Linked DNA regions of Homo sapiens. The protein of the gene in region 1 purifies or fractionates together with the protein of each later gene. This does not show direct contact. Each region holds a gene or a part of one and is shown in the gene's direction. Other genes may lie near its edges.

Region 1 (4,686 bases):
ATTGTGGACAGTCTTTCTCACAAGGCTTTTAGAAGTGAGCTTTATGTCAAGTTGAGCAATGCCTGAGAGTAATTTGGTAGGATTATTTCTTTGGTTTGAAAAATCTACATAAGACAGTGAAGACATGTTTTTCAAATTTCTTCAACCTGCTACATGTATCTGAAGTATTTTCTGTTTTGGAAACAGCTTTTCAAGCTTTAATTTACTCAACCATTTCAGGAGAAGCTACTGTGTGTCAGGCATCCTTAGGTCCTGGACACACTGTTTAACAAGATGGGCCCTGCCTATGGGAGCCCATAATTTGAAGGGAAAGTCAGATGCTGGACAAGTCATCTCACTGTGAGTGAGCCAGAAAAAACAGCATTGTAGGTCAAAGTGGTGCAAAGATCGTGAGGTAGGAAAAGAGACTAAAGTGGTTCTAGGAAAAATACAGGCAGGGTAAAGGAGGATACAGGTGAGGTGTGGGATCAGATCAGGGAGGGCCTTACGGATTTCTGAGCTGGATCTTTTACCCTTTTATTTAGCCAAAGAGGTCATGTAGTTATTTTACTAATTTGCATTCAGATTGTTCTGGCTTTTAGAAACTACAAACATTTCTATGATTAGTATTCTTGAAATGATCTTGTTGTAAGTTTGTGAGTACATCTGGAGGGAAACTTTGAGAAGGATTGCTGAGTTCAAGGGCTTGTGTGATTAAGTTTTAAAATTATAAAATGTGGTGCATCCGTGCTAATAATTACCATTCAGCCATTGAGGAAAATGAGGTAGATTTATGCATATTGATGAAGAATGAAGACCACAATATCCTGTGTTACAGGAAAGAGATATTGCTAAGTGGCCCTTCAAAATAGTGTAAATTGTTAAATCCGTCTACAGTGGATGAAGATGTCTGCTTCCTCCAGGTTCACTATCAATGTTTTAAAACTCTAATCTTTATCAGAAAAGAAATATTTCATTGTTTTAAATTTGTTGTGTGTATGGTGAACATATTTGATTATTGGCCACTTACAGTTTTTCTTTTTTTATTAACTTCCGGTTTGTGTTTTTCTTTGATTAAAGAGCTCTTTGTAGATAAAATTAGCTCCCCTTATATTGCAAACTTCTTTCCTCTGGAGTCTTCTGTCTATGGTTTCCTTTACAATTCAGTGGTTTTAAGTTAAATAGTCACATATCATTCAATTCCTTTTTGACTTCTGGGTTTTACCAGGCTTGTAAAAGAGCAGACTAATTCTTGAGTACTTAGGCTTTAGAGAACTTTCACACCTACGGACAAAGATAAGGAAAACCATGATTTTCTAATCTTTTGAGAAAACAGCTCCTTGAAGAAAATTCAGTGTTAAATCCTACTTTTGTTACTGTACAGAAAAATCACTTTTTAAAAATAATTGCTAAGAAGTAAGGTACTTGGATTTTAAGAATGAATGTTACCTAACACAATGGTTCTCCATTTTTTTTTGTTTTGTTTTAAAGACCCTTTTACACTCTTAGAAATTATTGAAGACCACTTTTGCTTGTGTGATCTGCTCTTTTCTGTATTAGAAATTAAGACTGAGAAACTTAAGATATTTATTCACTAAGTAATCACATTACATTAATGTAAATTTTTTTTTAACATAAAATATTTTTTGTTCTGGAAAAGTTTGGAGAAGAATGGCATGGTTTATATTTTTGAAAATTTGCTTTATTTGGCTTAATACAAGACAACTGGATTCTTATCAAATTCTATATTCACTCTTACATCTGTTAAAATATACGAAGAAAACCTGGCTTCACACAGATACGTTTTTAATAGTCTTTTCAGATAAGTGTGGATAGGTTTTTTTGCCACTACACTAAAACCCACAAGTGGCTGTTTCTGAATATAAAATTGCAATGTGGAATCTGAAACCGTATCAATGAGCATTTTGTATCTTGACAGTAAAATCCATTGGTCTATTTTGCACTTGGAATGTATCTTATATTCTTGCATCTATCTTGCATTGACCATTCAGAAATACTGGTTCACTGAGATATGTAGATACCCACATGTTGAGATGCTTTATTATACAATATCAAAAGCACATTAATACCACAACTGATCTCATCAGAAAAGTCTAAGCACCTGTCAAGCTAATGACTGCAGATAAGTTTTCCAAAATTCCTTTTTTTGGCCAGATGCAGTGGCTCACGCCTGTAATCCCAGCACTTTGGGAGGCAAGGCGGGCGGATCACCTGAGGTCACGAGTTCAAGACCAGCCTGGCCAACATGGTGAAACCCCGTCTGTACTAAAAATACAAAAATTATCCGGGTGTGGTGGGCGCACCTGTAATCCCAGCTGCTTGGGAGACTGAGGCAGGAGAATCGCTTGAACCCAGGAGGCAGAGGTTGCAGTGAACGGAGATTGTGCCACTGCACTGCAGCCTAGGTGAAAGAGTGAGACTCTGTCTCAAAAAAAAAATATTCATTTTTTAATTTTTGACAAAATTTTAACGTTTTATATTCTGCCATTGGCAACAAAGGCTGTCAGTTTTCCTTGAGGTGATAGACTTCTTTCATTCCTTTAAGAAAAAGTGTGACAAGCACCCAGGTCTGAGTGACCATGGGATTTCTTGCAGTTGTTAATTCAAGTAAAAACAGTATTCCAGGAAAATGTTCTCTAGTTTTAGCTTGCAACTCATATAGTTGCACAAATCCTTTTAATCGTATTTTGGTGTACAGTGGAAGTGCTTTATGGCATACTTCTCATTTTATCACACAGAACATTAAAAAGACATCTCAAGGATGGAGAGCTAATAAAATTAATACTTTCTACTGCATATGGTGAAGTGACAGTAAGTGAAACTGGCATTTTTAAACTACAAGCGAAGAAGGATGCAGAACAGAGAGACTGCTAATATGGTTTACTGTCACTGCCTTGATTTGTGTTGAGGCACCAGCAGCTTTCTCCACCGCTGCCTTGGTACCATCATTACAAATGTCAACCCAGTGGAAAAAGGTGTGAATATTGTCTTGAAAATAGTTTTGACCTCATGGACCCCCTCAAAGGGTCTCAGACCACAAGGGATCTACAGCCCACACTAAGAACTGCTGCCCTGACAAAAACGCTTTCTCTCTGTAACAGACTTTGAGAGTTTTGACCTGCCTGAAGAGCACCAGATTGCGCACCTCCCCTTGAGTGGAGTGCCTCTCATGATCCTTGACGAGGAGAGAGAGCTTGAAAAGCTGTTTCAGCTGGGCCCCCCTTCACCTGTGAAGATGCCCTCTCCACCATGGGAATCCAGTAAGTGAGCAAGTGCCCTTCTGGAAGGGCTGCAAACAATTTGTTTCATAACACTTCCATTACCATGGGAAGAGTTGTGCGGGAGGTGAGCCTGTGAGTAATTTCTGTCCTTCAAATGACAAGGATTAGTTTTCAGAAAAATAAACTATTCTCGATTAATATTGCTTTTCAGTCCCAAATGCCCCAGTAAAATTGTTATTCTGGAAACTGGATAGTCTTACTACAGCCAAAAGATTAATTCTCACTTACATCTTCTTAGGCTATAAGTTGAAGCATATATAATAAACTTGCTTGGAATGATGATTCCATGTTATATCCAAAGCTAATATAAGATCAAAACACCTGTGCTGTAGCATAGACTGACAATAACTTCTTACTGCAGAAGGTCTGAGGTCTTCGTTTGAACTGGTAGTCAAAGCCAACATTATGTTTTCTGTTTGTTCTGATGTGGGATAATTTGTCCTAATAAGTTACATTAGTGAGACTGTTAACTCTTACTTTGGTCTCTAAGAACAATAGAGATTCAGATACTTCTAAAACTTACTTCCTAATGAAAGTCAATTCTGGGGCCACAGACACATTCCAAAAAATGTGTCAGGAGGGGATGCAGGTGATTGATTTGACAAAGGGAAAAACATGAATTTTTGATTGACAGCTAATGTCTATGTTGATATGGACAATGACTCAAGGATTTGCAGAAATTTTAATAAGAGATTCCTGTTTTCTAGATCTGTTGCAGTCTCCTTCAAGCATTCTGTCGACCCTGGATGTTGAATTGCCACCTGTTTGCTGTGACATAGATATTTAAATTTCTTAGTGCTTCAGAGTTTGTGTGTATTTGTATTAATAAAGCATTCTTTAACAGATTCTTCCTAGTATTGTGGTTGCTTTTCCATGGAGGTTACTTAAAATAACATGAAAGCTAGCTGAGGTGTTTAACAAAGAGTCTATAATGTGACAATAGAGATTTGTCTGATGTCTAAAAACTTAAATCTTTTTGGTTTAACAGCTTATTTTAGAAGCTGCCACTGTTTTTTCCTGAAAAGTATACCCCTCAATGTGTACTTTATTGACTTTTTGTGGCCATTAACTAGTGACAGTTATTAGATCTCTTAATTAGAAGAGCTACTTCCAACTCATTAAGTATCTATTGCTGGGCATTCTTTATTGCCGGTTCTACTTAGTTTCTAATGACTTTAATACTCAGTATTGAAAGGCTCTAAATCTGAGAATTCAGCCTCCTTGGGATCTTCAATTAGATTCCTTAAAGATCACTGGAGATAATTTACTGATAGTAAGGTCTACACTCCACCTATAGGAAACTGTATTTAGTTGTTTACCTTGTGTTGGACATGAGTATTTGAGAAGCATTATTATGTTTAATGTTTGACACTTTCCCAGGTAAGACAATGAAGCGCAGAAGTTC
Region 2 (7,301 bases), on another chromosome or scaffold:
TATCAGATCTTGTGAGAACTCACTCACTATCATGAGAACAGCATGGGGAAAACTGTCTTCAGGATTCAGTTATGTCTACCTGGTCCCACCCTTGACATGTGGGGATTATTACAATTCAGAGTGAGATTTGGGTGGGGACACAGAGCCAAACCATGTCACCATCCTACCTTCTTAATCTCTCAGCTCCTCCTTTCCCCTGCCTCTTGCAGCAAACTCCTAATCCTTCTTCACCCATCAGCTCAGAATGTTACCTTTTCAGAGAAGCCTTCCTTGTCACTCCCACTTAGGTTCTTCTTCTTTTAAGCAGGTATAGCTTACATCACACAATTCCCAGCCTAGTAACTGATTCATTATATAACCAGGCTCACCTCTCTTGAGAGGGAGGGACTCTCATTTGAGAGCAGGGACTGACTTTATTTGAGGCTAAGCAATATTTATAGTATTGACACATGGTAAGTATATAATAAACATTGGTTGAATGAGCAATAATAATGGCTAACATATTGCATATATTGTTCTTAGCATCTTAACATGCAGAGATAACTGTATGAGGTGGATTCATTATCAGATTACAGTAGTTCTTCAGTATATCAGCTAGCTTAATGACAGTTGAAAGATCATGCTAGCAATTGAACAAATGTATCTGGCACACCTCTGAGCACAGAGAGGATGGCTTTTCCTCTAGGCAGATTTTCTTAACAGGTTGCTCAGTTTTTCATAGGATAATATAGACTCTGCTCAGTACAGTAATTCTATTAAGACATGAAGCAATTTAGAGTAGATACACTATAAATAAATGCCCAGGGTAGCTATGGCAATGAACTTTGTCAAAAACATCACTCAGAGAAGCAATTTTTATGTATGTTCTGTCTGAAAGAGATACAGCCCACCCATTTCTCTAAAATACATTCATGGATTAAGTCAGATTAACAGGCTATCTTGAGATTACGTGTACCCTATTCTGTAGAACTGGTTTTACTGAATTGGCCTTTGAAATGATGCTATAAGACTATTAACGGATGTCTGATAGTTTCATAGAACTTAGCGCATTTTTAAAATTATACTTTAAGTTCTGGGATACATGTGCAGAATGTGCAGGTTTGTTACATAGGTATACATGTGCCATGGTGGTTTGCAGCACCCACCAACCCGTCATTTACATTAGGAATTTTTCCTAATGCTATCCCTCCCCTAGCTCTCCACCCCTTGACAGACCCAGTGTGTGATGTTCCCCTTCCTGTGTCCATGTGTTCTCATTGTTCAGCTCCCACTTATGAGTAAGAACATGCAGTATTTGATTTTCTGTTCCTGTGTTAGTTTGCTGAGAATGACAGTTTCCAGCTTCATCCACATCCCTGCAAAGTACATGAACTCATCCTTTATTATGGCTGCACAGTATTCCATGGTGTATATGTGCCACATTTTCTTTATCCAGTCTATCATTGATGGGCATTTGGGTTGGTTCTAAGTCTTTGCTATTAAGAACAGTGCTGCAATAAACATATGTGTGCATGTGTCTTTATAGTAGAATTATTTATAATCCTTTGAGTATATACCCAGTAATGGGATGGCTGGGTCAAATGGTATTTCTAGTTCTAGATCCTTGAGGAATCACCACACTCTCTCCCACAATGGCTGAACTAATTTACAGTCCCACCAACAGTGTAAAAGTGTTCCTATTTCTCCACATCCTCTCCAGCATCTGTTGTTTCCTGACTTTTTAATGATTGCCATTCTAACTGGCATGAGATGGTATCTCGTGGTTTTGATTTGCATTTCTCTAATGATCAGTGATGATGAGCTTTTTTTTTCATAGTTTGCTGGCTGCGTAAATGTCTTCTTTTGAGAAGCGTCTGTTCATATCCTTCCCCCACTTTTTGATGGGGTTGTTTGTGTTTAAGTTTAATTTGTTTAAGTTCTTTAAGTTCTTTGTAGATTCTGGATATTAGCCATTTATCAGATGGATAGATTGCAAAGCTTTTCTCCCATTCTGTAGGTTGCCTGTGCACTCTGATGATAGTTTCTTTTGCTGTGCACAAGTTCTTTAGTTTAATTAGATCCCATTTGTCAAGTTTGAACTTAGCCCATTTTATCTATTGCAAGGATACAGTGTCTTAAGGAGATTGTTATACTGTACAATTTTCCTTTTGTAAGTCTAGAAAGACTTAAAGCATTTTTCGTATTAGAGACAATTGTGCTTTTCCTGAGCAATTAGCTTGCTTTTTCTTTATGGGTACTGTGGATTGTGTAACTGATTAGGCTTACCTTTTTTGTATAGAGTCATGGGAAGAATAGATACAAATTTGTGATGTGACTATTGCAGTTATATGGAACATCACACACTTCAGTACATTTAGATATTAGCCTCATTCTTGGCTCCGTTATATTTCGTTATCCTGGCTTTTCTCTCTCTTTATCTTGCTTTTTTTCTTTCCTTCTTCCTTTCAAATTATCCTGTCTTCCTCATTTGCATTATATGAATTCTTTTAAGCTACCTCGTCATTATTTGAAATTACATTAAGTATATATACACACAAATATACATATGAATGTAAATTCCTAAAATGAATTTAGATTTTAAAAGAGCTACCTGTAAAGTAAGCTTTTAAAACAAGTTCCTTTGAAGTTCTTTGTTTGCTATTAGTGTTATATTTTTCTTCAGGACATTAAGCAAGATTTTGTTAGATTCCTATTTCCTTTCAAGTTTGGTTCAACAATTATATTAAAGCCTAGTTAGACATGGATGTGGTTTATATTTTCAATCGATGTACTCTTTTACTCAAATAAAGCACTTGTGATATTACAGACATTGTAATCCAATGTACAGGGCTATGAGTAAAGTTATAATGAACTTTGTAACTACAAGACTGAACTCCAGAAAATGTGAGGGAAGGGCATGAAGCACTCACGTTTTTATGTGAATAATGAATACCTACTCTAAAAATGTGTATTGACATTGGACAAAAGTATATATTCTAAACTACAAATGGTAGGTGGTGTAGCATAGTGGTTAAGGACACTAAAATGTAAAGGTTAGGTTGTACAGTAGAGTGACTAAGGGTACAGACTGAAGCTAGACCTCTTGAGATTGACAAATTGGCCATATGACATAGAGAAAATGATTTAACCTCTCTGTGCCTTAGTTACATTATCTGTAATATAGGGAACAATAATAGTACCTACCTGTTGGGGTTGTAATCTCTGGCATGTAGTAAGCATCTAGTGAGTCTCAGTTATTACTGTCTTTAACATATGGTATAATATTTCAGAATGTATGTTGTTGATTTTAATTTTTAGGTCTCTTGCAGCTGAATGGGGTAAATATGGAATGCGATTCAATGTGATTCAACCAGGGCCTATAAAAACCAAAGTAAGTTGTATTTTGCTTGTTATCACATTGTGAATGATTAAATAATGAAACACTGATAGGTATATTCTGGTTGTTGTGTAAAGGACTTTCCAGAGATGCCTAGGTTTAGAGCCCTGGTTCTAGGGAAGAGGCCTTTGCCTTTATTCATTATCGAATATAAGAAATAAGGAGGCGGGCAGGAATATAGCAGCTATGCAATTTCTTCATAATGTCAATTTCAGTGTCTTAATCGTTTGGGATCTTTTATACCATCAATGTTGGCACTTTGTCTGATTTGTTTCAGTGGTCTGTTATTGTCCTGTATTTGTTAACTTTCATGACATTTTAAAGGCTCCTACATTGTCTGACATCCTTTTTTAAAAAAAATCAAGGAAATGTAACTATATTTTTAGTTTGAGAGATGCTTTGGTAACTTATTATATAGGCTTTGTCTTGTTATAGGTAGGTAGCATTTTCCTTGACTCATGCTTGTGCCCTTTCACTCTCAGTCAATTATGCATGTCATCTAACGCCCACATGTCTCTGATTATAAGTCCTTCTGACAGCATAGATTTCACCTATAAGTAATAATCCTTGTGGATACTCATTGCAACTTGTAATTATCTCTAATGTTGTTACAGATGTTGCTCAGAATATCCACACCTTCTCTGCTCTCTCATTATCCCAAAATAACTTCACTCACACTTCTCTTGGTTTTCACCTAAAGCAAGTATTTATAATGCCAACCAGATGTAATGTTGAAAGACCAGGAAAAATTTGGTAACTTGTTTCAGTTGTGTAAACATATTGGAAAATAATACTAAAGGACTTTTGGGTTATAGGTAGCTCTGGGTATTAAAAATAACTTGGAAATGGCCATATTAGTTTATTTAGCAGTTTAAAGGATGGGAAATAGAAACAAAAACTTCCTGAGTGATTGAAACTTGTTGACTATCTTATTTATCTGACAATTCAATACTAAACAGTCTAATAAAATTAGTGGAAAGAAACTTAAAAACATACATTAAAACACATGATTCAGGGTGGCCCTGTCCTAAGCATATCTGAAAATAGGCTTATAGACACAAACGCTTCTCTCCAAGACCCCAATATCTAGGGAAAAATCACCTGCATTTTATTTATTTAACCTATATTTATTGACTGTTCACTGTATCTACGGGTACTGAGAAAGATACAGAAGTATCTCTGAGAAAGTGCTTGCCACTAAGGAGTTTACAGTCTAGCCACTGAGATAGGAGTTGTACCCAAATAATAACTACTTACTGTTAAAGAGATTAAAAGAAAACTGAAGTGTAGAAACTCCCTAGCATGCACTTTTTAGAACCAGGACTGGGACCAGTTGCAACCCCTTGTCTCTGGGCTTTATAACCTCCTGGGAAGAACTGGAGGTCTGTCATGGAGTCCCCTGAGTGTTTGTTCTGTCTTATGGCTGCATTATTGAGGAAAACTGCCACCTAAACTTCAAGGCACTAGTACAGAAAAATCCAGTTGTTTTTATTAATCAGTGCACATCCATAATTCATCTTGGTCTGTTCCTTCACATCATTGACAGAAAGCAAATTGTTTGGCCAATTTAGTTGTAGTTTTTCTCTCTCTAGAATCTAATTGAATTTCTACCTACTTGTTTTCTTCCTTTTCCAATACTTTGGGATGAAAGAAAAGGAATTTCCTCTTAAATATTTCCTATGAGCCACTTTTCTGTGTTTATTAAATGAAAAGCCAGTAATACCACTGCCTTTACCACCTAAGCTTGTACATATTTCAGGATACCTTTATATACATTTTTTCATTTGATGCTTATAACAATTTTGTGAGGTAACTAAGATAGATATCCTCATTTTACATAGAAGAAACTAAGATTAAAAGGGTTATATTTTCCAGTGATCTATTTTTTTTTTAAGAATAATTTGGTGAAATTCTTTTTTACTTACAAAGCCTAAGGTTTTAAGCTGCATGGCAGCATGCCATTTTATACACATTTTTTCTTGAGTAGGAAAGGAATTGATTGAAAAACCCGACACAACCTAATTGTTTTCTTAATTTCTAAGGGTGCCTTTAGCCGTCTGGACCCAACTGGAACATTTGAGAAAGAAATGATTGGCAGAATTCCCTGTGGTCGCCTGGGGACTGTAGAAGAACTCGCAAATCTTGCTGCTTTCCTTTGTAGTGATTATGCTTCTTGGATTAATGGAGCAGTAAGCGTTGTTTATTTCTCTTCACTTTTTTTTCAGGAGTGTGTTTGGGGCAGGGAGGTCTGTTGTGGAACCAATCCTGACAATGCTGAATGTAAATATCATTTAAAATATGTATTTAGTTGTAAATAATATAAAATATTATATATATTGTTTAGCCTATGACATTTATTCAGTGATGTATTAGTCTGTTCTCACACTGCTAAAGACATACCTGAGACTATGTAATTTATAAAGAAAAGAGGTTTAAGGGAAGTGCAGGGGGTTGGGGAATTCCCTTTCCTAGCCAAGGGAAGCCCTGACAGATGGTACCTGGAAAATCAGGACACTCCCACCCTAATACTGCACTTTTCCAATGGTCTTAGCAAACGGCACACCAGGAGATTATATCCCGCGCATGGCTCAGAGGGTCCCATGCCCACAGAGCCTCGCTAACTGCTAGCACAGCAGTCTGAAATAGAACTGCAGGGTGGCAGTGAGACTGGGGGAGGGGTGTCCGCCAGTGCTGGGGCTTGAGTAGGTAAACAAAGTAGCCTGGAAGCTCAAACTGGGTGGAGCCCACCACAGCTCAAGGAGGCCTGCCTTCCTGCCTCTATAGACTCCACCTCTAGGGGCAGGACATAGCTGAACAAAAGGCAGCAGAAACTTCTGCAGACTTAAATGTCCCTGTCTGACAGCTTTGAAGAGAGTAGTGGTTCTCCCAGCATGGAGTTGGAGATCTGAGAACGGACAGACTGGCCCCTCAACTGGGCCCTTGACCCCCGAGTAGCCTAACTGGGAGACACCTCCCAGTAGGGGCCAACTGACACCTCATACAGCCAGGTGCCCCTCTGAGACGAAGCTTCCAGAGGAAGGATCAGGCAGCAACATTTGCCATTCTACAATATTTGCTGTTCTGCAGCCTCCACTGGTGATACCCAGGCAAACAGTGTCTGCAGTGGACGTCCAGCAAACTCCAACAGACCTGCAGCTCAGGGTCCTGACTGTTAGAAGGAAAACTAACAAACAGAAAGGACATCCACACCAAAACCCCGTTTGTATGTCACCATCACGAAAGACCAAAGGCAGATAAAACCACAAAGATGGGGAGAAACCAGAGCAGAAAAGCTGAAAATTCTGAAATTCAGAGCGCCTCTTCTCTTCCAAAGGAATGCAGCTCCTCGCCAGCAACGGAACAAAGCTGGACGGAGAATGACTTTGACGAGTTGAGAGAAGAAGGCTTCAGATGATTGGTAATAACAGACTTCTCTGAGCTAAAGGAAGGTGTTGGAACCCATCGCCAGAAAGCTAAAAACCTTGATAAAAGATTAGATGATGGCTAACTAGAATAAACAGCATAGAGAAGACCCTAAATGACCTGATGGAGCTGAAAACCATGACATGAGAAATACGTGATGCATGAACAAGCTTCAGTAGCTGATTCGATCAAGTGGAGGAAAGGGTATCAGTGATTGAAGATCAAATGAATGAAATGAAGTGAGAAGAGAAGTTTAGAGAAAAAAGAGTAAAAAGAAATGAACAAAGCCTCCAAGAAATATGGGACTATGTGAAAAGACCAAATCTACGTCTGATTGTACCTGAAAGTGACAGGGAGAATGGAACCAAGTTGGAAAACATGCTGCAGGATATTATCCAGGAGAATTTCCCCAACCTACCAACGCAGGCCAACATTCAAATTCAGGAAATACAGAGAAGGCTACAAAGATACTCCCTGAGAAGAGCAACTCCAAGACACATAA

Evidence for each region.
Region 2: the proteins of PTTG1 (region 1) and DECR1 purify together in Homo sapiens (affinity purification with mass spectrometry; 4 studies listed by BioGRID and IntAct, with this or other methods). This does not show direct contact.

What each region holds. Positions count from the first base shown.
Region 1 is NC_000005.10:160,424,614-160,429,299, forward strand, and holds the end of PTTG1 (securin), read left to right. Parts: intron 1-3,101; coding exon 3,102-3,260; intron 3,261-3,988; coding exon 3,989-4,068; 3' UTR 4,069-4,126; downstream 4,127-4,686. UniProt on the Homo sapiens protein: Regulatory protein, which plays a central role in chromosome stability, in the p53/TP53 pathway, and DNA repair. Probably acts by blocking the action of key proteins.
Region 2 is NC_000008.11:90,039,431-90,046,731, forward strand, and holds part of DECR1 (2,4-dienoyl-CoA reductase [(3E)-enoyl-CoA-producing], mitochondrial isoform 1 precursor), read left to right. Parts: intron 1-3,297; coding exon 3,298-3,370; intron 3,371-5,418; coding exon 5,419-5,565; intron 5,566-7,301. UniProt on the Homo sapiens protein: Auxiliary enzyme of beta-oxidation. It participates in the metabolism of unsaturated fatty enoyl-CoA esters having double bonds in both even- and odd-numbered positions in mitochondria.